Linked DNA regions of Homo sapiens: all the other regions are reported to be linked to region 1. Evidence: microRNA targets listed by miRTarBase, many of them from high-throughput screens and not tested one by one. Region 1 holds a microRNA gene; each other region holds the end of a gene's coding sequence.
The links. Region 1 holds the annotated microRNA hsa-miR-26b-5p (UUCAAGUAAUUCAGGAUAGGU, at 4,998-5,018, shown strand). A microRNA usually pairs through its seed, bases 2 to 8, with sites in the 3' UTR of a target mRNA and lowers its output. Matches are read on the target gene's strand: a 7mer-m8 pairs with bases 2 to 8, a 7mer-A1 pairs with bases 2 to 7 and ends in A, and an 8mer does both.

Region 1 (7,123 bases):
GACAAAAAATAGAGTGCATAAAGCGACCTCCACCTGTAGAGACAGAGGGCAGCTGGGTGTAGACAACCCCTACAGTGAGGACACTCGAAGGACCCCCCTCCCCCCACGCAATCCTGGCCTCTCGCTCACTCCGTAACTAACTACCCGCCCCAGGCGTGGGGAGATAAGTCCAGGGCTCCAGGCAGAAGGCGCGGCTACCTCTGCCGCTTTGGGAGCCTGGGAGGAGGAGTTAGGTCTCCCTGGGAAAAGAACTGCACGGGCAACGGCTTGAAGTGGCGATAAGATGGGGTGGAGGAGGTGGGGGATTCCTGAGGAATCCTGTGAGCTCAGGATGGCGCGTCTGGGAATGGTGGGTGTGGGGACAGCCGGCCAGGTACCAGCCCCCTTCACAGAGGGAGAGGAAAGCGCGCCACCCAACCCAGGCCAAGGGCGAGGCCACGACTCCACTCAGTCCCTCGCCACACGCTTCCTTTTGGGGTCATGAGGGCCCCGCATCCGGAGATAAAGCCGAGGCCCCACCCAGGGGGCCGGACCGCAGGGGAGACAGATGTCCCGCTCCCAGGCTGGAATCCCGCCTTTGCCCTTGCCGGTAGACCCGAAGCACGTCGCTTCCTTTCTTGAAACTCAGTTTCCTCATCTGTGAAATGGGTTAAGAAGGAGGCCGTTCTAAGGGGTAAATGAGATTAGGGGGCGCAGCCAGAGCAGGCCTAGGAAAACGCCAGCAGCGTGTGGCGATCACGGTGATGAAGCGCAATGGTGGCCGCCCCGTGGGCTACCCAGGAGCAGGAGGAGGGCCGAGGGATCCAGCCCGGGGACCGGGGTATCAGTCCCCGACAGTCCCCTCCCGCCCCTACTCCCAGCCTCAGCGCACGAAGCCGCCGCGCCTTCTGGCAGACGCCGCTCCCCTCCCTTCCCCTCCCGGCCCCCGCGCGGGGCCTCCCCTCCCCGGCTCCCCCTCGGCAGGGCCTGGCGGACGTGCGCCGCGTCGCACCCGGCGGCCGGACGGGACAGGACGCGCCCGCCCCGCCCCGCCACGGAGGCCCGCGGGAGAGGGGGAGGGGAGGAAGTGCCGAGGGGTGTTTGTCGGGCTTGGCATTATTAATTTTTAAATGGTGAACTTACAAAATAGTAACGACGAGTGAAAAGAACTTCATAAACGAGGAAAAAGACCAACCCGCAGACCCACGGCGCGCACCACGGAGGGGCTTGCAGCGAGAAGACAGGGACCTCCGTTCCCAAGTGCCCAGCACTGCGCCACAGGCCGGGTGGAACGGGCCTTGAGGGCCTCTGGTTTGAGGTCCCCCACGGTCGGGCTTTGGGCCCACCGCGTGCGGCGCCGTGCTGGGCTCCTAGGATCGGCAGCGAGTCCAGTGACTCCCACCGCACCCCCAGTAATCACAGGGCGGCCGTCGACCGCGGGCAGGGGAGGGGGTCTGGGAAGGCCCCTGGAGAAGGTGGCATTTCCTCGAGGTCGGTGGAATTTGGCTACGCGAAAGGAACAGCGCGTACGAAAACTTCAGGCGGGAACGCGCGGTGGCCCGTGCGCGGCGGGTAGACGTGCGGGGCCCCGGGTGGGGCCGTGGGGAGAGGTCGGCAGGGGGCTTTCCCAGGGCAGAGAGTTAGAATTTCACGTCCTACAGACCGGGGGCACCTCGCCCTGGGGCTGCGGGGGGCGGCGACCGTCCCATTCAAGAGCGTGATTCTGAGGTTTGCACAGCTGTTTCGGGCCAGCAGAGCCTTCGCTGGCTCTTGACGTCCTTGCGAGGTGATCTCTGCGACCACCAGACAGGAGAGAAGACCCATTTTACAGATGAGGTAGTGCTATCTCCAAGTCCTCAACGAGGAAACCGAGAAGCCTCTAGTCCCGGGTCTTCAGAAAACGCAGAGGTGGAGCCGCGCCGCACTCGGGCACTCCCCGGCGTGGGCGCTCCCGGCGGGCGGGCCTTGGCCGAGGGCGCTCGGCGGCCTGGAACGGTGAGCCGGGTGCCGGGCCTGCCACGCAGCCGCAGAGACTCAGCCCCGCCGGCGGGCGGCAGGAAGGGAGGCGACGCCCCCTGGAGCGCGGCAGGAACCCGGCCCGGCCCGCCTCCCAGTCCGCCTAGCCGCGCCGGTCCCAGAAGTGGCGAAAGCCGCAGCCGAGTCCAGGTCACGCCGAAGCCGTTGCCCTTTTAAGGGGGAGCCTTGAAACGGCGCCTGGGTTCCATGTTTGCATCCGCCTCGCGGGAAGGAAACTCCATGTTGTAACAAAGTTTCCTCCGCGCCCCCTCCCTCCCCCTCCCCCCTAGAACCTGGCTCCCCTCCCCTCCGGAGCTCGCGGGGATCCCTCCCTCCCACCCCTCCCCTCCCCCCCGCGCCCCGATTCCGGCCCCAGCCGGGGGGGAGGCCGGGCGCCCGGGCCAGAGTCCGGCCGGAGCGGAGCGCGCCCGGCCCCATGGACAGCTCGGCCGTCATTACTCAGATCAGCAAGGAGGAGGCTCGGGGCCCGCTGCGGGGCAAAGGTACCGGGGCTGCGGGGAGGGGGCCGAAGCCGGGGCGCCGTGGGAGGAGAGAAGGGGCCGGGATCTTCCCCAGGGGAGCCGCCGCCGCCGCCCCGGGCGGCCGCCTTAGCTGTGCCCGAAGCTCCCAGCCCGAGAGGGAGCAGGGAGAGAGTTTGAACTCAGAGGAGGCTCAGAGACGCGGGGCGGGGCCTGGCGCCTTTGGGGCGCTCCTGTTCGCTCGAGGTGAGGAAACTGAGGCAGGAATAGAGAGGGAACTCTTCGGGGGTTTCCTGGCAGGCATTGCGTGGTGCATGGGCGCCCCCCCACCATTGGCGCCAATGGGGCTGGGAGATGGGGGAGCTGAGGAGGGCGCCTATGGGCCACCCGCTGAGACTCCGCCCCACCCCCCACCCCCACCCCCCCGGGCTGCGGTCCGGTAGGGTCTTGGGAGGGGGCGCCGAGGTGACAGCAGGCTGGGGAGGCTTGGAGGGATCTCCCGCCAACACACAGCTACGTTCCCCACAAACTTCGCGTCACGCGTGGAGGCGCCGACCCCCTCGGAGGCACAGAGAGGACGGCCGGCACTTCCAAGAGTCGCTTGGCGCCCGCGGGGAGAGTCGTGCGCCTAGTGGGCACGCACCACCCCGCAAAGCCTCGCCGCCCCGACGAGGCTGCGTCCCCCAGCGTGGCTGGGCCGGGGTGGGGGGGTCTGTCTTCTCCTTTTCCCCGTGTGGACCTCAGGATCTGGACGCTGCCCCCAGGTCTGCCCACCCTCGCCTGGGTCTGGCTGCCCCGGAACTGAGGGCAAGGTGGAAAGGCTAGTTGCAGGGGGCCGGAGGGGGGTGGGGTGGGAGGGGTATCTGTCAATCAGGCTGCTGGGCTCCAGGTCGGAGGTCTGGGCGGGGCAGGGCAAACAGATGGCCACTGGACACTGGCCCCAGGCCGCGGGACTGCACCCCTGCCTCTGGGCCCAGCCGCAGTGAGGACTTCGTACCCACGGGGGTGGAGAGGATGGAGGGAGGGCAGGGGTGGACTGCCCTGGGTCCCAGGCCCTGGCTGTCCTGAGCAGGGGTGCTCAGGTAAGGTGGGGTCAGGAGGCACCGCAATGGGGCTGATCAGCAGCAGTCATGGAGGCTGTGAGAGGCAGGGAGAGAGCACCCCAGGACCTCCTTCTCCAGGCCACGCACTCCCTATGTGGGCGCCTTAATACCTGCTAGACCTATTTGTCTGGGAGCTGCAGGAGCCTTGCAGTTGATTGTGGAGCCCTGACAGGGGCGTTTCAGAGAAAGTCAGGAGCTGCCTTCGTGTGTCTGGATGAAGGGGCCACGGCAAGATCCTCCTGGCTCAGGGGTTCACACCTGGGCACACATGCAGGATTCTGCAGGCCAGTGTGCACCGAGCCTCCAACTTGTGCCTCCCTACTTCAGGTGACCAGAAGTCAGCAGCTTCCCAGAAGCCCCGAAGCCGGGGCATCCTCCACTCACTCTTCTGCTGTGTCTGCCGGGATGATGGGGAGGCCCTGCCTGCTCACAGCGGGGCGCCCCTGCTTGTGGAGGAGAATGGCGCCATCCCTAAGGTGCGTGGGGGCCAGGTGGGGCCACGGGGGCACCTGGACTCAGTCTTCAGGGCTTTAGGGGAAGGGGCTCCTGACTGAGCTTTTCAGGATGGACTTGCAGACCTGAAAGGTGCAGAGTAGGAGGGTGGCAGCCTCCCCTGCCAGGCCCTGCCCACTGTGGGGAAACTGAATTCTCCCTCATAAGTGGAAGCTTTTTCCTACCTTGGTTTTTAGAGAGGTCTCAAAGAGCCAAGAGGCCTACCCAAGCCCTAGAGCTGGCAGGGGCAAAGCTGGGAAGGGGGAAGTATCTGTTCCTGGGGCCTGGGGTTCCTCTGGAGACGGCTAGGGGGAGAAGCCTGCGTGGGAGGAAGGACCAGGCCCGGAGAGAGGCACCCCAGCCAGCCCCGCCCTCCCTACAGCAGACCCCAGTCCAATACCTGCTCCCTGAGGCCAAGGCCCAGGACTCAGACAAGATCTGCGTGGTCATCGACCTGGACGAGACCCTGGTGCACAGCTCCTTCAAGGTGGGCCCTGCTCAACAGCCCTCAGCCCGGGTCTCGGGGGGCATCCCCCACCCTGGCCTGGGAGGGAGGTGTGTGCTGGACCCCATGCCCTGGGGCTCCTCCTCCAACTCCAGCAGCTCTTTTCCCCCCACAGCCAGTGAACAACGCGGACTTCATCATCCCTGTGGAGATTGATGGGGTGGTCCACCAGGTGAGGGCCAGGAAGAGGCAGTGGTGGGCTTGGCATCTGCCTCCAGACCCTAGGCTCTTCCCACCAATCCGGAGCGCCTCGGATGGGAATTGGATACATGTGGAATGTCAGAGGCCCAGAGAGGGTGTGAGACTTGTCCCAAAGTCACACAGAACCTCAAGGGCTTGTGCTGACTCCAAGCCTGCAGAGTGGGCTCCTCCTCTAGGCTCCCCCGTGCTGTGCTCCCTCGCCCCACCCTGCCCGGGACCCAGTTCAAGTAATTCAGGATAGGTTGTGTGCTGTCCAGCCTGTTCTCCATTACTTGGCTCGGGGACCGGTGCCCTGCAGCCTTGGGGTGAGGGGGCTGCCCCTGGATTCCTGCACTAGGCTGAGGTTGAGGCAGGGGAAGGGATTGGGAATTAGGGACCTCGTGAGGTAGGACTGGCCAGTGGAGTGGAAGTTTTGATCGTTTTCTGGCGGGGGGTGGGTACAGTTTCCCCAGCAGTGGTCAGGGTAGCTGGCCAAGCGGAGCCTGCGGGCCCAGTCTCCTTCCTGTGCGCCTCTGCCTCCCTGGCCCATGCCCTGCCAGCCCTCGGCCACCCCCACACTGCCCCACTGGCCCGCAGCCCCCTCACTGGCCCGCCCCCCAGGTCTACGTGTTGAAGCGTCCTCACGTGGATGAGTTCCTGCAGCGAATGGGCGAGCTCTTTGAATGTGTGCTGTTCACTGCTAGCCTCGCCAAGGTGAGCCCCACAGGGGTCCCGGGGCAACCCTGCCCTCCTACCTACCTCCCGCATGCAGCCCAATGAACCTGCGGGCCCCAGGATGACCCACCTCCTGCTCCCAGTACGCAGACCCAGTAGCTGACCTGCTGGACAAATGGGGGGCCTTCCGGGCCCGGCTGTTTCGAGAGTCCTGCGTCTTCCACCGGGGGAACTACGTGAAGGACCTGAGCCGGTTGGGTCGAGACCTGCGGCGGGTGCTCATCCTGGACAATTCACCTGCCTCCTATGTCTTCCATCCAGACAATGCTGTGAGTGCGGGCTGGACTGGGACTGGGACAGGAGCTGAGACCCAGGAAGGGGTCAGTCCATTCAGGCCACCTTGGCCTCTTGGATCCCCAGTTGGGGGGTGGGTGCCCTCCCAGTCCTTCCTGCATTCATTGCCTGTGCCTGCCGCCCACTCCCCTCATCCACCTGCCCTGTAGCCATATGGTCTTTTCCCCTCGCACAAAGCAGAGCATCTGCCATGCACAGGGGCCCCCACAGGGCAACGGAGTTTGGAAAGTTTCAATTTTTCGAATTGCCAGTTGTGACCTACTGATGGCCCACAGAATTAATTTAGTGGGTTCTGATTGGGAATTTTAACAAAATGAAATAGAATAGAAAATATCCGGTCGGGTGCAGTGGCTCATGCCTGTAATCCCAGCACTTTGGGAAGCTGAGGTGGGCAGGTAGCTGAGCCCAGTAGTTCAAGACCAGCCTCGGCAACATAGTGAAACCTTATGTCTACAAAAAATACAAAAACTAGCCAGGCGTGGTGGCGCATGCCTGGAGTCCCGGCTATGCAGAAGGCTGAGGTAGGAGTATCACTTGAGCCCTGGAGGCAGAGGCTGTGGTGAGCCAAGATTGTGCCACTGCACTCTAGCCTGGGCAACAGAGCAAGACCCTGCCTCAAAAAAAAAAAAAAGTATCCGAGTGCTTCGCACAGATAAGGTTAGGAATTGTGAAGCTTTTGCATTGTTACGTTATAAATGTGTTTTCCTGGGGATTGCTGTCAAAAAAGTTTGAACACTGTGGGTGAGGGGTTTTCAGAAACTGCATGATCTGAGTAGTGGCTACATAGGGCTGGCCTGGAAATTCTGCACCCAGGACCACCTGCCCCCCTCATCTTCCTACACCCACTTCCCCAGGTACCGGTGGCCTCGTGGTTTGACAACATGAGTGACACAGAGCTCCACGACCTCCTCCCCTTCTTCGAGCAACTCAGCCGTGTGGACGACGTGTACTCAGTGCTCAGGCAGCCACGGCCAGGGAGCTAGTGAGGGTGATGGGGCCAGGACCTGCCCCTGACCAATGATACCCACACCTCCTCCCAGGAAGACTGCCCAGGCCTTTGTTAGGAAAACCCATGGGCCGCCGCCACACTCAGTGCCATGGGGAAGCGGGCGTCTCCCCCACCAGCCCCACCAGGCGGTGTAGGGGCAGCAGGCTGCACTGAGGACCGTGAGCTCCAGGCCCCGTGTCAGTGCCTTCAAACCTCCTCCCCTATTCTCAGGGGACCTGGGGGGCCCTGCCTGCTGCTCCCTTTTTCTGTCTCTGTCCATGCTGCCATGTTTCTCTGCTGCCAAATTGGGCCCCTTGGCCCCTTCCGGTTCTGCTTCCTGGGGGCAGGGTTC
Region 2 (7,123 bases), not on the chromosome of region 1:
TAAACATCAAACAACTTTGTCAATGGGAAAAGCTGCCCCAACTGTTTTAGATCTTACCTCTCAACATTGTTGTCAAAGTACCTTTCCACTCTCTGGTAGTGTCTTTGAGAGGGTTTGTCTATTGGACTTAAAACTACATACACAAAGGTAAGATAAAGGTTATTTACACAGCCAATCTTAAAAGTAGAATATCAGCACTCTTTAATCTTCCCATTTTTTTGTAGAGACACGATCTATGTTGCCCATGCTGTCTCAAACTCCTGACCTCAAGCAATCCTCCTGCCTCGGACTCCCAAAGTGCTGGGATTACAGGTGTGAGCCATTGTGCCCGGCCACAGCACTCTTTATAGTAGTGTTTAACTTTCTGAGTCATGGACTCCTTATAGAGTCTCATACACCCTATGGACTTTGGGGGAAAAAATACACACACACACACACACACACACACACACACACACACACACACACACAATTTACATATAAAATGCCTCACAAATCTTGGGTTAAGAACTTCTCCTCTAAAAAGAGTAGGAAGTCGAAATTGAAAACAGGAGCCTATTTACTCAATCATTTGGCTTGAAGTTGAGGCAAATGCCTTATATATAGGATTGTCGCTGAGGTCTCCATCTTCCCAAGCAAAGGTGCCCTCTGCACTCTTCTTGCCAACCAAACCAAACCAAACCAAACAAAAACAAAAAACTCAAGAAACAAGCACAAGCACTCCAATTCTTGTGCCCACATCACAGTACATTCAACCTTAACACCTTAGAGGTTTACTTATCCTTATCCTTAAATGTTTTCTTTCTTGTAGGCCACTAAGGTTGGGTATGCTTCTAGTAATGGGAATACATGGGGCTGAGCCTCTACTTGCCTGCCTCAGAGCACATATTGGAAATTTCCTAGTACCAAAATCTGATCCCTAATTTAGGAAGAAGTCAAGAGACCATGTTGGAAGATAAAAATAAACGTATATAAACCAGAACAAGATTGGAGGGGAGAGGAGGCAACTGGGAGACAGAACAACTTGTGAAGAGACAAATACATTACAGAAATTCATAAAGTGTGAAAGTAATACATGTTGAGCAGTGTATCTTTAAAATTATTTTGTAAGTTATTTAAGCACTTGATACATATTTTTGTCTAAACACAGGAACTTACCACTTAGAAATGTAAATGAAATTTTTTAAATGGCTGACCCTACACTGCATGAACAAGAATATAAAAGAGGGATATTTAATTCATGTTTCTAGCATCTTCCTCTGGATTTCAACATGTCAAGGCTGATCTGCTGATCTTCCCCTAATCTGCTCTACCAGCATTTTTTCTACCTCAGTTAATGACAACTCCATTTTTCTTAAGCTGATCAAGCCAAAAAATCCACCAGGAAATCCTACTGACTCTCTTTTTAAAATATAGTCATTTAACTGTCAAAAGAGTCCCCAATAATGTCAGTACTAAGATTTCCCCTATTTTTTAAAAAAACAAAGTAAATGAAGACTCAAAGAGCAAGTAACTAGTCTAAATTAGATAGTCACAGGTGGTAAAGCCAGAAATCTGTCTGGACAGTCTAACTCTATACAACCCAGGCTTTTAAATATTAGAAAACATCACTTCTCAAAAGAAATTAAAACCTAAATAAAAACTGATTACAAGATAGGACTAAACTCAGGAATAATTATAAGTGCATTCCACAGATTTGTTCCAAACTCACTAATTTAGCATTGTACAATTATATCCAGAAAAGCTGCTAGGAAATAGTAATGTTCAGAATTAAATACATTTTCTCTCATGGTTTTGTATGTATTTTGGTAATGTATTTTTAAACATTAAGATTTATGTCCTGGCCACAATACTTTGAATATAAGGAAAATTTTTGAAGAAAATTTAAAGACGACTATCAAGAACAATTCCTAAGTAAGTCAGAATGTAAGCTCCTAAAGGGCAGAGACCATCTATTTTGTTCATTATCATACACCCACATCTAACATATATAATAGGTATTTAACTTTATAAATCAATAATTCATATATATGTATCTTTATGTATATCCTTCCACAAGTCACCCACTTCCCACTTCTTGATACCTGTAATGTTACCACCATCATCTCTTGTGTAAATTATTAAAACACCCTACTAACTGGTCCCTCTGCTTCCATCTTAGCCTCCTTTGTCTTATCACACAGTCAGAATAATCCTTTTACCAAAAAAAAAAAGTTTTAACATTTTTAAGTGAATAAATTTTTTTTAAAGAAGTCCTACCCAATTTGGAGAACTAAACCCATGACTTATTATTGTTCGTTTCAATCCTGTGCTTCTACAGTGCCAAAAAATACAAAATTTTTAAAGATGGGGATGTGGGAAAATTAAGCACTAAAGTGTTAAGAATTCTGCCTTAAAACTTTTTCCCTCAATGATGGAAAACTGAAGGGACATGAATCAAAACAAGGTGTTTAAAAATCCAAATTAGGTTTTATTAGCATCACTGCCAAGTATTTTACCTGGCTTATCTCCACTTCTCGTTAAGCCTAGTGTATCTGATACTGCTTTGATTACACATATACTGTATTAAGCAAACTGATTGGTTTCTAGGCCATAATTTAGCAAATTACAAACCAGTGAAGAGTAGTAAGTCCACTTCAATCAGAATATAGTATGTTTATATTAGTATGAAGAGTAAGTCCACTTCAGTCAGAATATAGTATGTTTATATATGCTTAACATCAACATACTAATTTGACGGCTAATCTAATGAAGAAATATCTTTGAGTACTCATGCACTTTTTTCATGTACTCATAATATGGGGCATTTTCAAAAAATGAAAGACGGAACTGTAGAGTTTTCCCAAAAAGATTACAAAAGATACTCTTCCAATATATTAGTCAGAACAAAGCCTTCGGCAGTTCGGTATACTTCATACAGCCTCTTATTGACTTTAAAAGATATGTTCAAGTATCTCTTCCATTTACATTTCAGTGGTATCTAATTAGTATTTACATGATAATTTTGAGCAAGTAGTTTTTACAAGGCAAAATGAATATAGTTTCTTACAGTCTTTGCAACAGATATTTCCCCAAATACTGTATTATACTCTGAATAAACATGCCAATGAAGAAATATGACATTCAACTTGATGGTTTTAATCTTTTAGAAGTGAACTTACTTTTACTGTAGAAAGTTGTATCAATATAAACATGGAAAATTCTGCATTCTCCCAGATGTGCCAAAACATAAAAATTCATCTAGGCAAAATAGTATTTATGCTTCCATTTTATTGTTTTTAAGAATTAAACTGCCACCTCAGTAGTCTTAAGAGCAATATAATGAAACATACATACATTTAATTTAGACTTATGTCCATCATAGCTTCAAAGGCTTCCCTGAAATAAGGCTGGGATTCACATCTTTTTCCGTAAGGAAAGAAACACTAACAGTAATTTTGTTATCCTTCTACCCACCCACCCTCATTCAAACAATTGATGAATTCAAGTCTAACACGATTTAAAACTTTTGTCTGCTACAACATTCATCTGATATGCCTCCCTGCATAACATAGATTTCTTAAACCTAATTGAAAATAAATCATTTTTTAAAAACTCTACAAGGGTTCTCTTAATTCAAAATTTTATCATGATACTGATTTTCTCGTCCAATACATAGGCTAAGTGGTTTCTTACCACATTCAACTCTAGTGACTTTCAATAAAAGCAGGATAGCTCTTCATAAATAGTTGAGAAGCTCTAAAGTGATTTTGGCTATTTTCTTATTACATGGAACAAAGAATGGTTTGGATTTTTAACAGTAATATTTTAATAGCTCCTAAACAGGGGGATGAAAAGGAATCAAGTTTGCACCAGTCCAAGTACCTACAGTAATATGATAGAAGCACTCACCACCATTTCACACTATCACTCCCATGCTTTTAATAACAAGCATTTCTCACTAGAAATATTGCATTAACACTGGACTTTCAAACTGCTAAATGTAGAAAATCACTTGCCTGACTTAAAACAAAAAAGTTTATTAGTTATTTTTGGCCAGTCAAGGTTGAAACGGCCATTTTGTTATTTCTAACTTCTGCTCTAGGGTTCAGAAATGATTTTGCATCTGATCATTCAAGATGAGAATTTGTTTCACCTGTACCTGACAGAATAAAATGGTAAATTAGCAATCAGATCACCCTTTGTCAAAAGAAGTATGTTCTAAATGTATACACTACAAACTATCTAATAAATGATATCTGCATACTACATATTTCATGTTTTATTATGCACCATTTTAGTGGGGAGGAAAAACTTCACAGGGATTTATTCAAAGGATATAAATAATATCCTAAGAATGTTGATTTATACATATGAGTTCTGTATAAACTGTTAAGTGGTCATCTTAGCTAAACTATAACAAGCCCCTATAATGTAAAAGCTGACTCGAAAGGCACCATGTAAAGCACTGAAATCCACAATTTAGCTGTTATTTCCTCTTCTCCAATACAAAATTATCTGGTAGTCTTCACTGTTGACTCCATGATAAAATGTTCCAAATTCAGACTGCTTTACCGACAAAAGGAATAGGAAATAAAAGTTTTTAAATTTCAAGTTAGAGGAAAAATCCTATCACACAGCAATGAAACCTGAGCAAATGCAAATTTGTGATTACAAGAATATGTCCTTCATTAATATATTATTCAAATTCCTCCATGGCATTCAAACTGTAGTTGAAAATCCTATAAACAAGAACCCACTTAAACACAGCATCAAACTCTACCATGAAATGAAGAATTACATAAAGCCTATTCAGCCCTATTCAGTTTAAGACAATGAACAAAACAGAACACATTTCATCTAAAGAACACCATTTAAACCCATTTAAACAGTTCTATAAAATAATGTTACTTAAGATCAGTATGTGTGGTGCATATGTGATTCCGACCATTCAGTAAAAAAGCATTAATGAGTAACAGCATTCCCCCACCAGCTTGAAGCCTGTAGAGTTGATTATTTTGGCCATCTCTTTCCAAATAATTAGTAATGTCTTTTAACATTACGAACAAATATATCTTAGTACTAGAATTCCAATGTATTTTGGTGCTCCTGAGGCTGCCTAAAAATGAAAAGGCATCCAAGTGAAGTGCATTGTATACTTACTATACCTCGAAACCTCAACATTTCAGTGCCTAAAATGTGAAATAATTCTCTATCATTTAACAGTCTGCCTTACAGCAAATTCTAGTAGATTTTTACTTTCAGGATTTTATTATAACTTTGGGAAATTAGTGGTAAAACATATGGTTTAAAAAACAGTATGTGGCTGCACTTAAATTCACATAAAAATAGCATTTTTACAACCATATTGAAATTTAATCCTTTTACACAGGTTAACAAAATGTATCACAAGAAAAACTAAACGTTGGGTTTAACAAAACAATACTTTTGAAGTAAAACAATGAAAAATTTTTTCAAATTTTTTACAAATGGTCACCTCTGGGTCAATTTACTAAACTAGGGGAACAAAGAGATGTTAAAATATAGCTGTGCTCAACTGAGCCACTTATCTGTACTACAGTATGGTACTTGAAATCAATCTTAAGGTCAAGATTTAAAACCATTTTAAGAAACAAGACCCTATGTGTTTTATACTACCTCGATAAGAGGTACTCTTCCTTCCCAAAACAGTCAAAGCTTAAAAGATTGACTACACATAAGTTTTTTTCCCCCTCATATCTTCCATTCAAAATACTATTATCATTGGTAATACGGTCTATATCTTGTCTGATCTGGATGATGTGGTCCAGGAAGTGGGGTTTGAGAAGGCGGACCCTGCAATCGTGGAGGTGGTGGTGGCCCTCTTGGTGCAGGCCATATACCAGGACTCATTCCCCCTGGTTGTGTAAATGGAGGGCTCAGAGTTCCTTGATCTTCAGTGAACTGGGGTAATGAGTTAGGATTATAATGGTGAGGAGGGGGTGCAGTTACAGGTGGACCACCATGTTGAGGTGGGGGAGGTCCTGGAGGAGGATGATTCATATAAGGTGGCATCTGGGCAATAATATGTCCAGGGGGAGGGGTTATTGGTGGTGGAGCAGAGGTCATTGGTGGAGGTGGAGCTTGGCTATATACCAAGTGAGGAGTACCTGCAGCCTGGGGAGGATGTGGCATTGGATGGCTTATTGGTGGTGGAGGAGGTGGGGGTGGTGCATAATGTTGCTGTGGAGGCATAATATGATGAGGGTGCGATACCACTGGTTGACCCTGATATTCAGGATGATGGTGAGCAGGTGCTGGGGCAGGAGGTGGTGGTTCTCTAGCACCTGAATTTGAGTCATCCTGAATAGGGACGGTTATTAAATTGCTGTGTTTTCTTGTTGAAATACGAAAGGTTTCCTGACTGACCGATCGAGGTGGAGGTGGAGCCATGGACAATTCTGCTGGAGGAGCACGAATATCCTCATGTGGCTGATTATAGTGCTCATGTGGCACATGTTGCAAAGGAGGTGGTGGCATCATGATGTGCTGCTTTGGCGGAATATGGCTCATATGGTGCTTGTCTGGTGGCATTATAAAACGCTCAGGGATTTCAGTTGGTGGTGGGGCAATAGGAGGATGAACATTTTCAAGTGAAGCACGGGTAACAGGTTTTCCAGCTCTCATATGGCGATGGTTGATATGAGCCTGTAAGTCTCTCTGAGACAAATATGTTCTCTTGCACCCTTGAACAATGCTACACATGAAGAGAGAACCTCGTGTACACTGCTCAATTCGCTGCACAGGATCACTACAGCTAAATTAGAAGGGAAAGAAATGTGATTTACTAAAAGAGAATACAAAAAATTATGTAATTTTCAAAAATATGCTTGTTTTTAAAATTTGACTGTTACATAAAACATAGCAAAAGTCCACAATTAGAAGTTACAGTTATTCTACGCAAACCTTTAATCTTCCCTACTTTGTTGTCTGTTAGCCATTAAGATAGGCATTTCTGTCAACTTCAGAACTCCTAATATCAAACGGTATGTTTCAAGAAGAGACCTCATTCTTCCCAAGGCCTAGAATTTATCCAGTTTTCTCAAACAATTGTACCTTCTGCATCCATTTGCCAAAAAACCCAGCAAGAAAAAAACCAACGGGT
Region 3 (7,104 bases), not on the chromosome of region 1:
TATGTTATCACTCACATCACTGTTCTAAGACTATTTCAGCTAAAGATTGCTCAGAGATATAGTCAGTTTCTGAATACATTACTCAAATAGTCTTTGTCTGTTAATGAAATATGCACACATGACATTTTGCACAAAAAGCCAGGAATTCATTCTGTCAAAAACAGTGAAAAGCTGTTTCATTTAAAATTATTTTAAGAAATAATATATATTACGTATAATTTATTATAATAAGTTATAAATACAAATGGAAAGTTATTCATTCTGGACAGTTTTGATATGTGAGTTTGCAGCCATGTTCCTACCAGGAATGACAATGTACTGTAATGGTTCTTTCTTGGCCCAGCTGGAGGAACTGGCGTGAGGGGAGCGGGCCTTTCTTAGACCAGGAATATCAAGATTCCTCAGGACAAAGGAGCCCATGTGGTTTGAAGCCCCACCCCAATACAGGTTCTGAGCTCCCTCAACTCCACCTTCATTAAAAACCAGTGGAAACAATTGCAGTGTTTAGCCTAGATTTTTAAAAATTTTAAAGTGTAAACAAGGTATAATTTGTGATGTTAGAGAAACATTTGATGGATGCAACTGTAATTTGAAGTTTGGCAATACAGCTCTTCTCAAATTTCTTTTACTTCTTAATTTATTGTTTAAAAATGAACATAAATATCCATTATTATTTTCACTCATGCTTTCAGAAGAAACTAAAACAAGCAATGGAGACCTGTCTGACAGCACTGTGTCTGCTGATCCTGTTGTGAAATGATACGGATGGTATTCACTGCACATATGATGAAATCATCAGAATTGTTAAAACTTTTGCCAGTGGAATGGATAAACTATTGATGAATTGTTTCCTGGGTCACATCTCTGGAAAATAGATGTTACAGTTCTTAAAGGCAGTGCTTTAAAGTGAAGTTCATTCTGTTTCCAAAGGCTCTACTTTCAAAGGTTAAGAATGAGATTTTAAAATTGGATTTTTGCCTGGACTTGAGGGTACAAGATGTTTCTATTTGAAGTGAAGTTATAAAAGGGCAAATCCAGATTCATAAACTATCACCTCGGATTTCTTGTAATCTACATGTTTGTAATTTGTATTTGCATAGATCTTTGATCTATAGTTATTTCAAGTCATGGGAAATTCAATGCATATACTATATACAGCCAGTAAATACATGCTTAACAAAAGGAATGAGCCTGAAGTTCATAAAGAATACATATCAATATTCTTATAAAAGGAATATATGAAGATGGCTTTGATACTAGAGGTGAGGCACAAGTGTTTTATGTACTCTCAGTGTACAGTATAACTGATGATCCTTCTTTCATTGTTAATTTCATGTGACTCACAAGAGCTGCTGATGTCTTTGATGAGACATTTTATAACTAGTTTACATTGCTTTGAGAACATTTAACCTCCAACAGCTGCTTTAAATTTAAGATTTACTTAATACTCAGAAAATTCAGATAAAGCCATAGAGTCCTGTTTGAAGCTTCACTTCTATTTTGGTTGAAGGCATGATGTATGATGTCAGAAAAAAAATTGAATGAATTATTTCTACATCCAAACTCAGGTTTCTTCTACATTAGATTGAATTGAAATTTTGGTGATGGTTTGGGTAGACTTTTTTTTTATATCAAGTATAATTTAAAACATCAGATTAAATAATTACACTGTTCAGGCTTTTAAAAAAATACCACTGTGAGAATAAAGCGCTAGCAAGATACATCACTTACTGATTTTAAAAATACAGAAAGATTTTGAGTAAATTTTGTGCCCAGCAAGCTGTTAGTTTTATTTTTGTAAAGGTATGTAAGTTATTAAATGGTTAATCATGGCCTTTTAAAAATAAAATAAAGTGATACCTTTACAATGAAGACAAAAGTTTAAAACTTTCTAATACAAACACCATTTTGGGAAATGCTTGATTTTTTTCTATTGCATTTGTCTGCTAAACATTTCTTTGGATAAATCCTGCAAATACTTCTAACATTATTCTTTGATTCCAGCTTTTAGAATGGGTGTACAATGCCCTGTTTGTACTTACTGGTTAGGGTCAGGGTAACTTGCCAGCCCAAGATAAATACTTTAATTGTTAAAAGTCAGAAGAGACAGAATATGTAGGAAATGTTTTTTGTTTATTATGTAAACATGGCTTACAGAATTATGAACAGTGGATAGATTAAAGGCATTTAATATTTGTAATTCATAATAACTGTAGAAATGGCCCTAAAGCATGCTGCATAATTAATAATTTATATTTTCATTATTATAAGTGTTTATATTAATGATCTTGCATTTGATTATATCAAATTCGTCATTTCATAGCAACAGTATTGTTTTCTCTGTTTTTCTTCTCTAACTTCTCTGAAATCATCTCCTATTAAGGGATAGAAATTGTTACTAGAAGAGAATCACATGTTCTGTGTTCATTATCCCTACACATGTAAATTAATTATTTTATCAATACTAGATAGAGTTCACATGCTGACTCCCTGGATACCTACAGTTGAGAAGAAAATGACAGACAATTATTTTTCCTTTAGGTCAAAATAATGTCACTGCTATCTGGATAAATTATAAGTTCATATATTTGAAATAAGATCCTGGAAACGAATTTAAATGGTGTCAAACTGCAGAGCAACAGGGCTTCAGTATATTCACATCTAATAGGTTAATATGTACATTTGGATGATGATTTTTCTTGATAACATTAACATTAATTTTATTTTTTCAGACATACTGTAATTTAAAAATTAATGTGAGCGTTTGTTTTAAGTTCACAGAAAACTTAATAATTCAAATTCTCAGGAATTAAGGACTCACCATAACATTGTCAGTTCTAATGAAATTTTGTAAAAGATGGCAAGTTTGTTACCTCACTTGAGTGGGGTTTTCCTTTTCCCCCAATTCTAAGAGAATATAATGTGTATACTAAAACATTAATAAACATAATTTTGAAAATTTCCTTCCCCTGGATGTTTATGTTCAAAATTGAATGTCGTAAACCAGTAGTTCTTAATATTAACCTTTTTGGGGTCCCCCTTAATTGAATGAAATGAAATCTGTGGAATCATTTTTTTATAAAATGCATGCACATAGGTAAAAATTTGAAGTTTAAAATTGGCTCCTGTCAATGTATTCCAGGTGAAAGAAAGGTGTTTTCTTTCCTTTATACATCCTTGATCTTTCCAGAGCTTTTTTCCAATAAAAAGAACCAATATGAAGTTACTTTAAATCCTAATCCTGGAAAGGGATTATCAGTATGCATTGTTTAATGTTAGTAATAACTATAGTGCTATTTGCAAACCTGAGTTGAACTAAAACAATACAGTAGTCTCCCCTTATCCGTGTTTTACTTTCCAGTTTCAGTTACCTGTGGTCAGCTGTGGTCTGAAAATATTACATGGAAAATTCCAGAAACAATAAGTTTCAACTTGTGTGTTATTCTGGGTAGCATGATGAAATCTTGTGCTGTCATGCTGCATCCCGCCTGGGACGTAAGTCACCCCTTTGCCCAGCATCTTCATGCTGTATGTGCTACCTGCCCATGAATCACTTGGTAGCTAGGTTGTCAAATCAATAGTGTTTGTCTTCAAGTAAGCCTTATTTTACTTAATAATGGCCCCAAAGTGCAAGAGTAGTGACGCTGGCAATTCAGATATGCTATAAGAGAAGCCTTAAAATGCATCCTTTAAGTGAAAACATGAAAGTTCTCAATAAGGAAAGAAAAGAAATCATATGTGGGGTTGCTAAGATCTGTGGTAAGAATGAATCTTCTCTCCGCAGCATTGGTGACAGTATTTGTTACAGTTATGTTTCATCATTAGTTATTGTTAATCTCTTACTGTGCCTAACTTATAAACTTTATCATAGGCATGTATATATAGGAAAAAACCGTATATATACGGTTAGATACTATCTGCAGTTTCAGGCATGCACTGGGCGTTTTGGTGTATCCCTCTCAGATAAGCAGGGACTACAGTAATGACAACAGAGCCTTCAAAATATTACACTGGAGACGAGGTACAATCCTGTTAAATACTACACTGCAGAAATCATTCTTGGTAAAGTTAAGTCTGGTTGCTGTTCCTTTTTTCTTCTGAGGCAGTAAATTTGTAAAATTGTGGGAAAGATGAGAAAATATTGGATACTTCATGTTATTATTTTATGCTGAGTCTGCTAAATGTAAAAGGTAGGCTTTAATTGATTTTAATAATTGTAACAGGATTTTCTTTCCAGCTTCACATTGCAGATGTTTCAGAAGACGGTATTCGTTTTTTAAGGGAAGTTTTAATACCACATTTTTTTTTTAACAAAGGCTTTCAGATGTTAGGAATACTTTAATAGGCTGTCAAAGATGTGAAGTTTAAAAAGGGAATCCAGAATAAGTGGAAATCTGTAGAGACTAAGCAAAGGCAGTGAACTCAAGAGATGGTGATGGCAAAGTTAGAGTTCAGTTTATAACACAGGTCAGCATATATATAATGTATAAGAAAAGTTGGGCAAGTAAGTATTTTCTTTTCAGTAGTTTGGCTCCTCTTTACCACTCAGTTCACCTGATACCTCCATTTCCCATTAGTGGAGATATACTCAGGAATGTACATCAAATTTATTCAGTCGATGCAGATCTGATACCATAATTCTTGGATCATCTCTAAGGACTATAAATACATTCTGTAGGTAAGAGTCAAGCATTCTTTAATAATGCCCTCATTTGATGGGGGAAGGAGTTAACTTTTATACCTAGAAGCACTTGTCTTTATCAGATTAGTATTAAAGTATTTACTCTTTTCAGAATCTGTACAAAAGGTAGCAAAGTATTAAGGATATTATGCTTTAGGTTGATACTGCTATTGAATAAATCGTCAAAGCTTAATGTATTGAGAAATATTTGGAGATTGCTTAGTATCTGGTTCTCTCTTGAGGTCATCTGTATATAGCACAGAGTGGTTAGAAGCATAGACTCTGGAGCCAGAACAATTTGAATCCCGATTTCCTGCTTAGGAACAGATTCCTTAATATCTCTGTGCTTCATTTCCTTGTGCAAAAGGTGGGATGATAATGACAGTATGTAGCTCATAGGTTGTTTGAGGATTTAATTTGCGTAAAGCACTTTATATATTAGGAAACAGTAACTAAATATTAGCTGCTCTTGTATATAACTACTGGAAACATTAGCTATTACTGTATTATGTGTACTCTCATAGGTAGGAATAAACTTGGCACATAAGCATTAAGTGTTAACTATTCTTTTAGGTGGAACGATTGAAACTAAAGTCTGTATTTGACTTTAAGTGGGTCTCTAAAAAACTATTCCTTGTTAAGTGGCTCAGGTAGATGCAGACAAGGTAAGGAAGGCCCTGTTCTTCCCTAAAGGTAGTCTGATGGGTATGTGAGGCTAAACCAGCCTGGGAAGTGGGAATTGGTAAGAATAGTTGGCTTCTAAAAAGGTCCCATTTCCTCTCTTCCCACCCTTCCCACCTTTCATTTACATGGCACTTGTTATCTTTCAGAGCACTTTAATGTGTATTAATACACAGTTCAGTAAGTGGAGAAAAGGGGCAAATCACCCACAGTTCTAAGTTTTAAAATTATTTAAAAATAGTGCATGCAAGGTATACAATATGTATTATACTATTTAAAGAATGAAAATAAAGCACTTGGAAAGAAGCTACCGTTATCAGTTAAGAACACTTTAGAAGCTCCTGCAGTTTCTGCCCAAGAAAACCACATGGGGGTTTGGTGTTAATCATTCTCTTGCTGTTCCCTTGTTTTACAACTGATGGTATTTTCCTAAATATTGATAATATGGTTATGTTTCAGTTTTCAAACTAAATAGAAATGGGATCTTATTATATGTTTTTGTAACTTTTTCATTATTTTAAAAATTCATCCACGTTGATGCATATAGCTGTAGTTTAGCATTTCATTACATGAATACAGCTATCTTCTGTCGACGACATCTGGGTGTTTTTCACTTTTGGGATATTGTAAACAATGATGCTGTAATCATTATTGAACGTGTCCCTGGGTCCATGTGTTTAGAGTTTCTCTAGGCTGTGTACCTGCAGGTAAAACTGCTAGGTAGTACGGCAGGTGCCCTTTCAATGTACTGGACAGAATGCCAAACTGTTGTTTCATCCCAGCAGCTGAGGAGATTCCCCTTTGCTCCATTTCTACAAACAGCTGAATTTTTGCAGTCTGGTGAATATAATGTTTCTGTGGTTTTAATTTGCATTTTCCTGATTACTATAAGGAGTCTGTTTCTGTTTATGAACACTTTGTCTTTTTTAATGTATGAAATGCCTTCATGACTTTTTTTTTCAATTTATCTTTCTACCTGTAGGAGTATTTTATATATTCTGGATGCTAATTTTTTGTTGGTCTTGTGTGCTTGCTAGTATCTTTGGTTTAGTTGTGTGTTTTCATTCTCTGTGGTGGTTTTTGATGAAGTTAGTTTTAATGGACTGAATTTCAGTCTTTTTATGTTTCCCTAATGATGTGCATGCTTTGTGTCTTATTTAAGCCATGCAGTCTTTTAAAATGGTGGATTAATAAAATAACTTTTGTAATACAAAATTAGGTTAACATCATAGGATCCATTTGAAATGTATAAAGAAATGTATAGTGTTTCACTTTTCAAACTAATAATTGTTTAGGACTTCAGATTCTACCCCTCTCCCAAAAAAGTCTAAGCAAGAAAAAAAAAGTTCAGGGGACTGTGGTTCTTGCAGTCTGTCAGAGAACCAATTGATCTAAAGCAGTTATGTCATACAAATTTGTAAGGCATTAGTGAACAATGAATTAATTTTACAGTGCATAATCTCATACTGGCTTAGACTGGCTCACTATTTCTTTTATGGTGTATACATTTCAAATGGATCCTATATTAACCTAATTTTGGATTACAAAAGTTGTTTTATCCACCATTTTAAAAGCAACACCTTTAAAACTTTTAGCAATGGGATCACATATTCTACTCATGTTGACTGGAAGTATTTTTTGATACTATATCCCCTCTTCTGTGATTTCATTATGCCCTAGTTTTTGGGAAATTGAATGTTAAAGCTATAGAGCTGACTTTAGTTTTCTTCCAGGGATGTTCT
Region 4 (7,107 bases), not on the chromosome of region 1:
CAGGTAGACCAGGTCCTCCTTGAGGTTCTCAGGCTGCATCTCCAGGTTGGCTCCGGCCAGGGTCAGCTTGTCCAGCCCCTGGTGCAGCTCCAGAGACCCAGCCTCGCTTGGTGCAGAAGTCATTGGCAGCCAGGTGGGCATCATCCACCTGTAGCCAGCACTTCTCCATTCTGCCAACGTCTCCGGCCTGGTGAGTCTGGATGTGAGCGCATCCCAGGGGGCCCAAGGCACAGAGAGAGAGAGGAACGGGGTGGAGGGAGGGAAGTGTGTGCAGGGGCCAGGAGCGCCAGGCTGCTCGGGCTTCCCGGCCCCTGCAGCCCGCCAGGAGCTGTGGCCAAGGCAGAGGCCTGCCCTGCTGCTGCTGGCGCTGTCACCTCCCTGTGGTCCTGCCTTCTGGGTCCTTGAGGGCCTCCTGTCATCTGGAACTGGAAATAAGTTAGTGAAGCGACGTTTTGTGAATATTTATTGGCCTTTGCGTCTTTGTCTTCATTTTCAGTGCTGGCTTTTCTGTTGGGTCATTTGTGTTCTTATGTTGATTTGAAGAATTTAAAAAGGTATTCTATAAATTAATCCTTTATGGGGTCATTTCTAGTGCAGATAGTTGTTTCTTAGTCTGGTCATTGTACCGTAATTTTATTTCACATTTCTTTCTTGCTGGTAAATAAGAATCTAATTGATTTTATATATTGATTTTGTATCTTGTTACCTGGTTTAATTCACATATTCATAGGCATCATTTTTGGATTGTGGTGGGTTTTTCATGTACTTATGTACATGTAGTTATGTACTTATGTACTTAAATACTTAACGTACTTACATACTTATGTAGTTAGTGTCAGCCACATATAATAACACCTATATTGCTTAAATGTTGGTTCTTACACCTTTATTTTTCTTTATTTTCTTCTTTTATTGTCCCCATCACACCTCCTGAACACGGTGTGTCTGGTTCTGATTCCAGGGAACAGGTTTCAGTGATCCTGTATTCCTTATGTAGTTTATTATAATTTCATTTTAGACAAACAATGAGATTAAGGAAGCTGCCTTCTTTTACATATGCTAAGAGTTATTTATGACTAATTGTTGAATTTGAATAAATGCTTTTTTTTACATATACTGTAAATAATCATATGTTTTTCTCGTATTTTTCTGAAAATAGGATATTTTATGTGAACTATTTTTGGATGTTAACCAATCCTGCATTTTTTAGTATATCCCACTTGGTATCCATGTGTTACATTTCCATATGTGGTTTAATTCATATGATATGGTTTTTTTTAGAATATTTGTATTTCTGTTAATGAAAGAGTGGGCCTATAATTTTTTTTTCTAAGGTCCTGTTCAGATTGTGGTGTCAAAGTAATGCTGGCTTCACAAAAAAAAAAAACTGAAAAATATTTCCTATATTTCTTCTCTTTGGAAGAGTCTGAGAAATTTAGGTGTTTTCTTCCTTAAATATTTGGAATATTTCTTTAGGTATGGAATTTTCCTTGTGGAACAGTATTTTTGTTGGCTGGTTTGACTTCTAATAATTCAAATCCTTCGGTATATGTAGGAGTTTTCTTGTTTTATGTTATTTCTGTGTCCGTTTTAGTAAGTTTATTTTTATTTTTATTTTTTGGGGGACAGAGTCTCACTCTGTCTCCCAGGCTAGAGTGCAGTGGCGCAATCTCGGCTCACTGCAACTTCCGCCTCCTGGATTCAAGCAATTCTCCAGCCTCAGCCTCCTGAGTAGCTGGAGTTACAGGTGCGTGCCACCACCCCGGCTAATTTTTGTGTTTCTAGTAGACACGGGGTTTCACTATGTTGGCCAGGCTGGTCTCGAACTCCTGACCTCGTGATCCACCTGCCTCAGCCTCCCAAAGTGCTAGTATTACAGGTGTGAGCCACAGTGCCCGGCTGTATTTTTTAGTAGAGACGGGTTTTCAGCATGTTGGCCAGGCTGGTCTCGAACTCCTGGCCTCAGGCGATCCACCTGCCTCGAACTCCCAAAGTGCTGGGATTACAGGCGTGAGCCACCATGTCCGGCCTAGTAAGTTTATTTTTCAATGTGATGTTATTTGAATCTCTGTTGTCAAACTTGTAGTCCTAAGTATTTCACCGAACCCTCCTAGTGTCTTAATACACTGCTCTATGGAACAGGCTTTTGTTTTGGTTCCGGATATTGGTTTTCTGTGTCTTTCCTCTTTGCCTCAGTTGGTTTCACTAGTGGTTTCTTAAGTGTATTAATATTTATAAACCAACTTTTTTTTTTTTTTTTATGAGACAGAGACTCACTGTGTTGCCCATGCTGGAGTGCAGTGGTGCGATCTCGGCTCACTGCAAGCGCCGCCTCCCTGGTTCAGGCCATTCTCCTGCCTCAGCCTGCCGAGTAGCTGGGACTACAGGCACCCGCCACCCCGCCTGGCTAATTTTTTGTATTTTTTAGTAGAGACGGGGTTTCACTGTGTTAGCCAGGATGGTCTTGATCTCCTGACCTCGTGATCCGCCTGCCTCGGCCTCTCAAAGTGCTGGGATTACAGGTGTGAGCCTCTGCGCCCAACCCTATAAACCAACTTTTATCCTTGATTTGTTTCTGTTGCTTTTTTTTTCCTATTTCATTGATGTCTGCTCTTTATTACTTTCTCATTCTTTCATTTTGATCGTTTTTAATTCTTGAGAAGGGAGTTTATGTGATTGACTGTCAATCTTTTTTTCTATTCTAACATACTCCTTTAAGGCTGTAAATTTCTCTCTAAGCAGGGATTTATCTGACAGCCCACATTTTCCATCAGGTGTTTCCAAACCCTGTGTCTGCAGCCGCATTGACCTCCCAGTGTCTCCACCCTGTATCACCTACAGCCATGCCAGGCTTGTGTGTCTCCATCCTTGTGCAACAGAGACCCTGTCTCTATTTAAAAAAAAAAAAAGAAGAAACCTAAAAACAGACTGGCACTTAAAAGAGTTGTGCTTCATTTTTTGACTTTCCGTATTAATTTTCTGTTTGTTTGTTCCTTAAACAAGCTGCCACTGCTGCTGATTCAACATGTTTCATTTTATTCTTTTTTTTTTTTTTTTTTTTTGAGACAGAGTTTTGCTCTTGTTGCCCAGGCTGGAGTGCAATGGCGTGATCTCGGCTCACTGCAACCTCTGCCTCCCGGGTTCAAGCAATTCTCCTGCTTCAGCCTCCCAAGTAGCTGGGATTACAGGCATGCACCACCATGCCTGGCTAATTTTGTATTTTTAGTAGAGACGGGGTTTCTCCATATTGGTCAGGCTGGCCTGGAACTCTCAACCTTAGGTGATCCGCCTGCCTTGGCCTTCCAAAGTGCTGGGATTACAGGTGTAAGCCACTGGGCCTGGCCCATTTTATACATTTTTAATGTGTATTCTTGTTTTTGGAAAATGTGAACAGAGTACTATTAAACTCTTTTAGCGTCGGTGTAGCAAGGAGGTAAAGAAACAAACAACAAAACAAACAAAAAATCCCTCTTTGTGAAATAGGATTGAATATCGTTGGATTGAGCACTTACCAAGCAACTGTGCCAGGGTTTGTGTCCTTCATTTAATTCTTACAAGCCTGAGTGTTCCGTATTTTAACTTTATAGGTGAACAAATAGAAGCTGAGGGTGAAGGACCTACAGCTGTCACCTTCATCTCTTCTCAACACTGCCAGATGTCTCCTTGGATCTCCCAGACAGACAACAAGGGGCATCTCTGGTTTCTCGGTGCCCGCTAGAAACCTAGGGTCATTTCAAGGCATTATGCAAATGAGAAGCTTTCCTTCTCTTCACCTCATCTCCTGATCTGCACAAAAATGACTGTAGGACCCACTGTAGGTACCAATGTAGGCACCAATCCTCAGTTTACCACCTGCTCTCTACTTGCTTCCCTGCCATAACTTTCTAAAAGGGATGTGAGCCATGTTTAAAGTCACCTGGTCACTGGAGAGATCTTGTTCTACCCTCTACATCAGTGGTTGCCAACCTTTTTGGCACCAGGGATGGGTGTTGTGGAAGACAATTTTTCCACGGACTGGGGGGATGGGGGGAATGGTTTCAGGATAAAACTGTTCCACCTCAAATCATCAGGCATTAGATTCTCATAAGGAGCACACAACCTAGATTGCTAGCATGCGCAGTTCACAATAGGGTTCTTTCTCCTGTGAGAATGGCGTGCCGCTGCTGATCTAACAGGAGGCAGAGCTCAGGCGGTAATGGGAGCAAGGGGGAGCGGCTATAAATACAGCTCGCCACTCACCTCCTGCTGTGCAGCCCGGTTCCTAACAGGCCATGGACAGTACTGGTCTGTAGCCCAGGAGTTGGGGAATCCTGCTCTACAGAGTTTCCAACCTCAGAGATGAAGCATCCCCTCTGTATACAAGTCAGAAAGAAATTATTCAAGTAGGAGAATTAAAACAGGATCACAGAGAGGGAGGCTGAAGAATTTGACTTTCTGTGTTTACTTGTATGAGGAAAAACAGCACATAGAGGCAACCACAGTATTTAATTTGTTTGGATAATAGTTAACAGATAAACAGGTACACCCCATATACAATTACCAATACTTTTGATACAGTTCATATTTCAGTACATCAACACTATTTTATTTACACTCTATTTATGTACATTAACATCTTTCTAAAGTCAGTGCATTGTCAACAAGTTTTATACAGTAATTTACAAGGTGAATGTAGTTAATAGTTAATTTAATAAATTTTCCGCTAGTTCATGAATTAAAAAAATTAATTACAACCAGTATAACACAAATCACACAACATTAGTAGATTGTGCTACCTGTTTAAATAAAACATCTGTAAAGAAATTATTTAAAATCTTCCACTTTTTAATGGGACATGTCCAGGTAGGAATGGACAGATTTTATTTACTGAAAATCTTGAAACTATAAAGTGTGCATTTTGTCTGACTTTATTACATTAGACAATTTAGGCCACTCCTACCTACTTGCAATTATATTTTTTCTGAAAAGGATTTCAATTTAGGTAGCCATTTAAGATAACCTTTCCAAATGCTCTGAGAACTAGATATTAATAGTTACTGGCCTCAGATATCAGAACACAAATGCTTAGTTACATTGGTAATTACTACCTATGAGGAAGAAAGGGTAATGGAATCTGGCAATGAGAATCAACTTGCAGGGTCTAAATGAATAAACAAAGACCAAAAATAAGGTGAAACATTTCCTTCAAGTATATATTAAGAAACTACATGAAAAAAATTCTACCTCAAATAAATAATATTTATACTTTTGTTCCAATCTTAAATAATTAGAGGGAAAAAATGAAGTAAGCAAAGAAACATAACTTTCAATGACTACTGTAAAATTTAAAAAAAGACAAATATCAAAATAAAAAAACCAGTGGACATGCAAACAAAGCAAAACTAAAGTTGACTTCCTAAAACCACCAATTTCATTAAATATACTTATGAACTCCTAATGTCTGGGATGTGTTTTGTTTGTAATTTATAGCCCTTAGAGCCATCAAATACACACAAGCAAGTTCATTTGCATGTGTTCTCTCTTTTTTAAAGTGCAAAACAAACACAGAAAAGAATAACCACTAATTGTGAAACGTGATCTAGCTCCGATGCCGCTTACCTTCCCAGAAGCTCTTGTTGCAACATGTGCATGTGAAGATGGTGCAAATATTGGCAACTGCTCCCCTTCCCTCAGCATGGGCGGGGCCGGGGGTGCAGAATACATTTCTGAGGATACTTGAAGTAGCCTAAATGTAAGATGCCTCCACTGGGAGGGCCCTGGTAGCTGGATTTCCCAGGATGTTTTTCTTTCTACTGGGTCTCCCTCTGGTTGGAAGGCACATAGCTCTTAAGAGAGCCTCCCTTTCAGACTGACCACTCTATGCCCCTGCCACCAATGACTGGTTGTGTCTCAAACGTAAACACAATGGCAAAAACAAAAAGCAAGAAAAAGAAAGGGTATGGAAACAGTTTAAAAAATAAATTGAAAAATCCTTGTCCATGCCGTAAGAATCATTTGCACACCTTCATGATCTTGCTTTCTCCATCTTGTCAATATAATGGAATAAAACTTCAGGAAAAAGGAGGTAGCGTATCATGTCGTCCCTAGACAACATTATAATTGTTTGTTTTTTCCTCTGACTCCAAGGAAATCTTTAATATTTGTTATGATTATTGGTAAACTCTATACTCACTACATATTTGTTCATATCTGGACAAGCACAATTCAATTCTTATTTGGTCCCAGGTGGCTGGTGCCACACCTTTTGTTTACAGGCTAATGGTGGGATCTGCCTGAAAGTTCTCTATCAGACAGCTTGTATGAGACTTCAAAATACAATTGTTTCTACTCTTCAAGTTAACTATTTTAATTAGAATTTTTGTTCTAACAGGATAAAATAACTACATTTAGCTTGTCTTTCAGTGACACTTTTGCCAAGTATCAGCTACAAGGAGTCATCTCCCTCGCCACCAAGCTGTCTAGCAGCCAGAGTGGTAGCTTTACTGTAACATAGAGTACTTTTCGTAATCAGACTCAGAGTCTTCATCCGTACTGCTTGTGTCTGCCATCTTTTTGCCATCAATCTTTGGCAGAAATTGTGCGTAGTCTATCCCCTGCTGCTCATAGAAAAGAATGTAGGCAGAGTCGGTGTCAATTTCATCAGGGTGAAGTTCCTGAAAGGGCAAGAAAAACCTTTAACAAAAAGCCATCACTATTATGACTCTAAATCCTTGCCAGGAAAGGGAAGACCAACCCTCTGTAATTACTAACCTGATTGCTTCCAATAAGCTCACTAGTTTGGCTGTCTCACACCTGCCCCTTTAAAATGAGCCCCATTATTTCCAATGTTTGCTTTGGGGAAAATATTTTGACCATAGACAAGTCAAAACAGAATGACCTAAAACCCCATCAAATTCTAATTATTTATTTTGTATGTATTTATTTTTTTGAGATGGAGTCTCGCTCTGTCACCAGGCTGGTGTGCACTGGTGCAATCTCAGCTCACTGCAACCTCTGCCTCCCGGGTTCAAGCGATTCTCCTGCCTCAGCCTCCCGAGCAGCTGGGACTACAGGCATGTGCCACCACATCTGGCTAATTTTTTGTAGTTTTAGTAGAGATGGGGTTTC

Region 2: miRTarBase lists CBLL1 as a target of hsa-miR-26b-5p. Seed matches in the 3' UTR shown: 7mer-A1 at 4,589-4,595 and 7mer-A1 at 3,483-3,489.
Region 3: the mRNA of WASHC4 is a reported target of hsa-miR-26b-5p. The part of its 3' UTR that is shown has no 7-base or 8-base seed match.
Region 4: miRTarBase lists USP6 as a target of hsa-miR-26b-5p. Seed matches in the 3' UTR shown: 7mer-A1 at 6,331-6,337 and 8mer at 5,184-5,191.

What each region holds. Positions count from the first base shown.
Region 1 is chr2:218,397,660-218,404,782 of GRCh38, forward strand. It overlaps MIR26B (microRNA 26b), which reads left to right and starts at 4,987; the gene lies at 4,987-5,063. It overlaps CTDSP1 (CTD small phosphatase 1), which reads left to right and starts at 2,209. Exons shown (of 7, transcript NM_021198.3): 1 at 2,209-2,498; 2 at 3,905-4,053; 3 at 4,452-4,556; 4 at 4,690-4,746; 5 at 5,376-5,468; 6 at 5,573-5,758; 7 at 6,638-7,123. The coding sequence starts at 2,432. The coding sequence ends at 6,766. RefSeq lists silencers at 857-1,126, 1,817-2,186, 2,257-2,336, 2,497-2,656.
Region 2 is chr7:107,757,795-107,764,917 of GRCh38, reverse strand. It overlaps CBLL1 (Cbl proto-oncogene like 1), which reads right to left. Exons shown (of 6, transcript NM_024814.4): 6 at 3,251-6,775. The coding sequence ends at 5,740. Among named protein-coding and RNA genes, the nearest start is that of CBLL1-AS1, 17 kb to the right of the region's middle.
Region 3 is chr12:105,166,172-105,173,275 of GRCh38, forward strand. It overlaps WASHC4 (WASH complex subunit 4), which reads left to right. Exons shown (of 33, transcript NM_015275.3): 33 at 693-2,959. The coding sequence ends at 760. Among named protein-coding and RNA genes, the nearest start is that of WASHC4, 62 kb to the left of the region's middle.
Region 4 is chr17:5,172,351-5,179,457 of GRCh38, reverse strand. USP6 (ubiquitin specific peptidase 6) reads right to left here. Exons shown (of 38, transcript NM_001304284.2): 38 at 4,467-6,653. The coding sequence ends at 6,480. It also overlaps a transcript of ZNF594 not described here. Among named protein-coding and RNA genes, the nearest start is that of ZNF594, 16 kb to the left of the region's middle.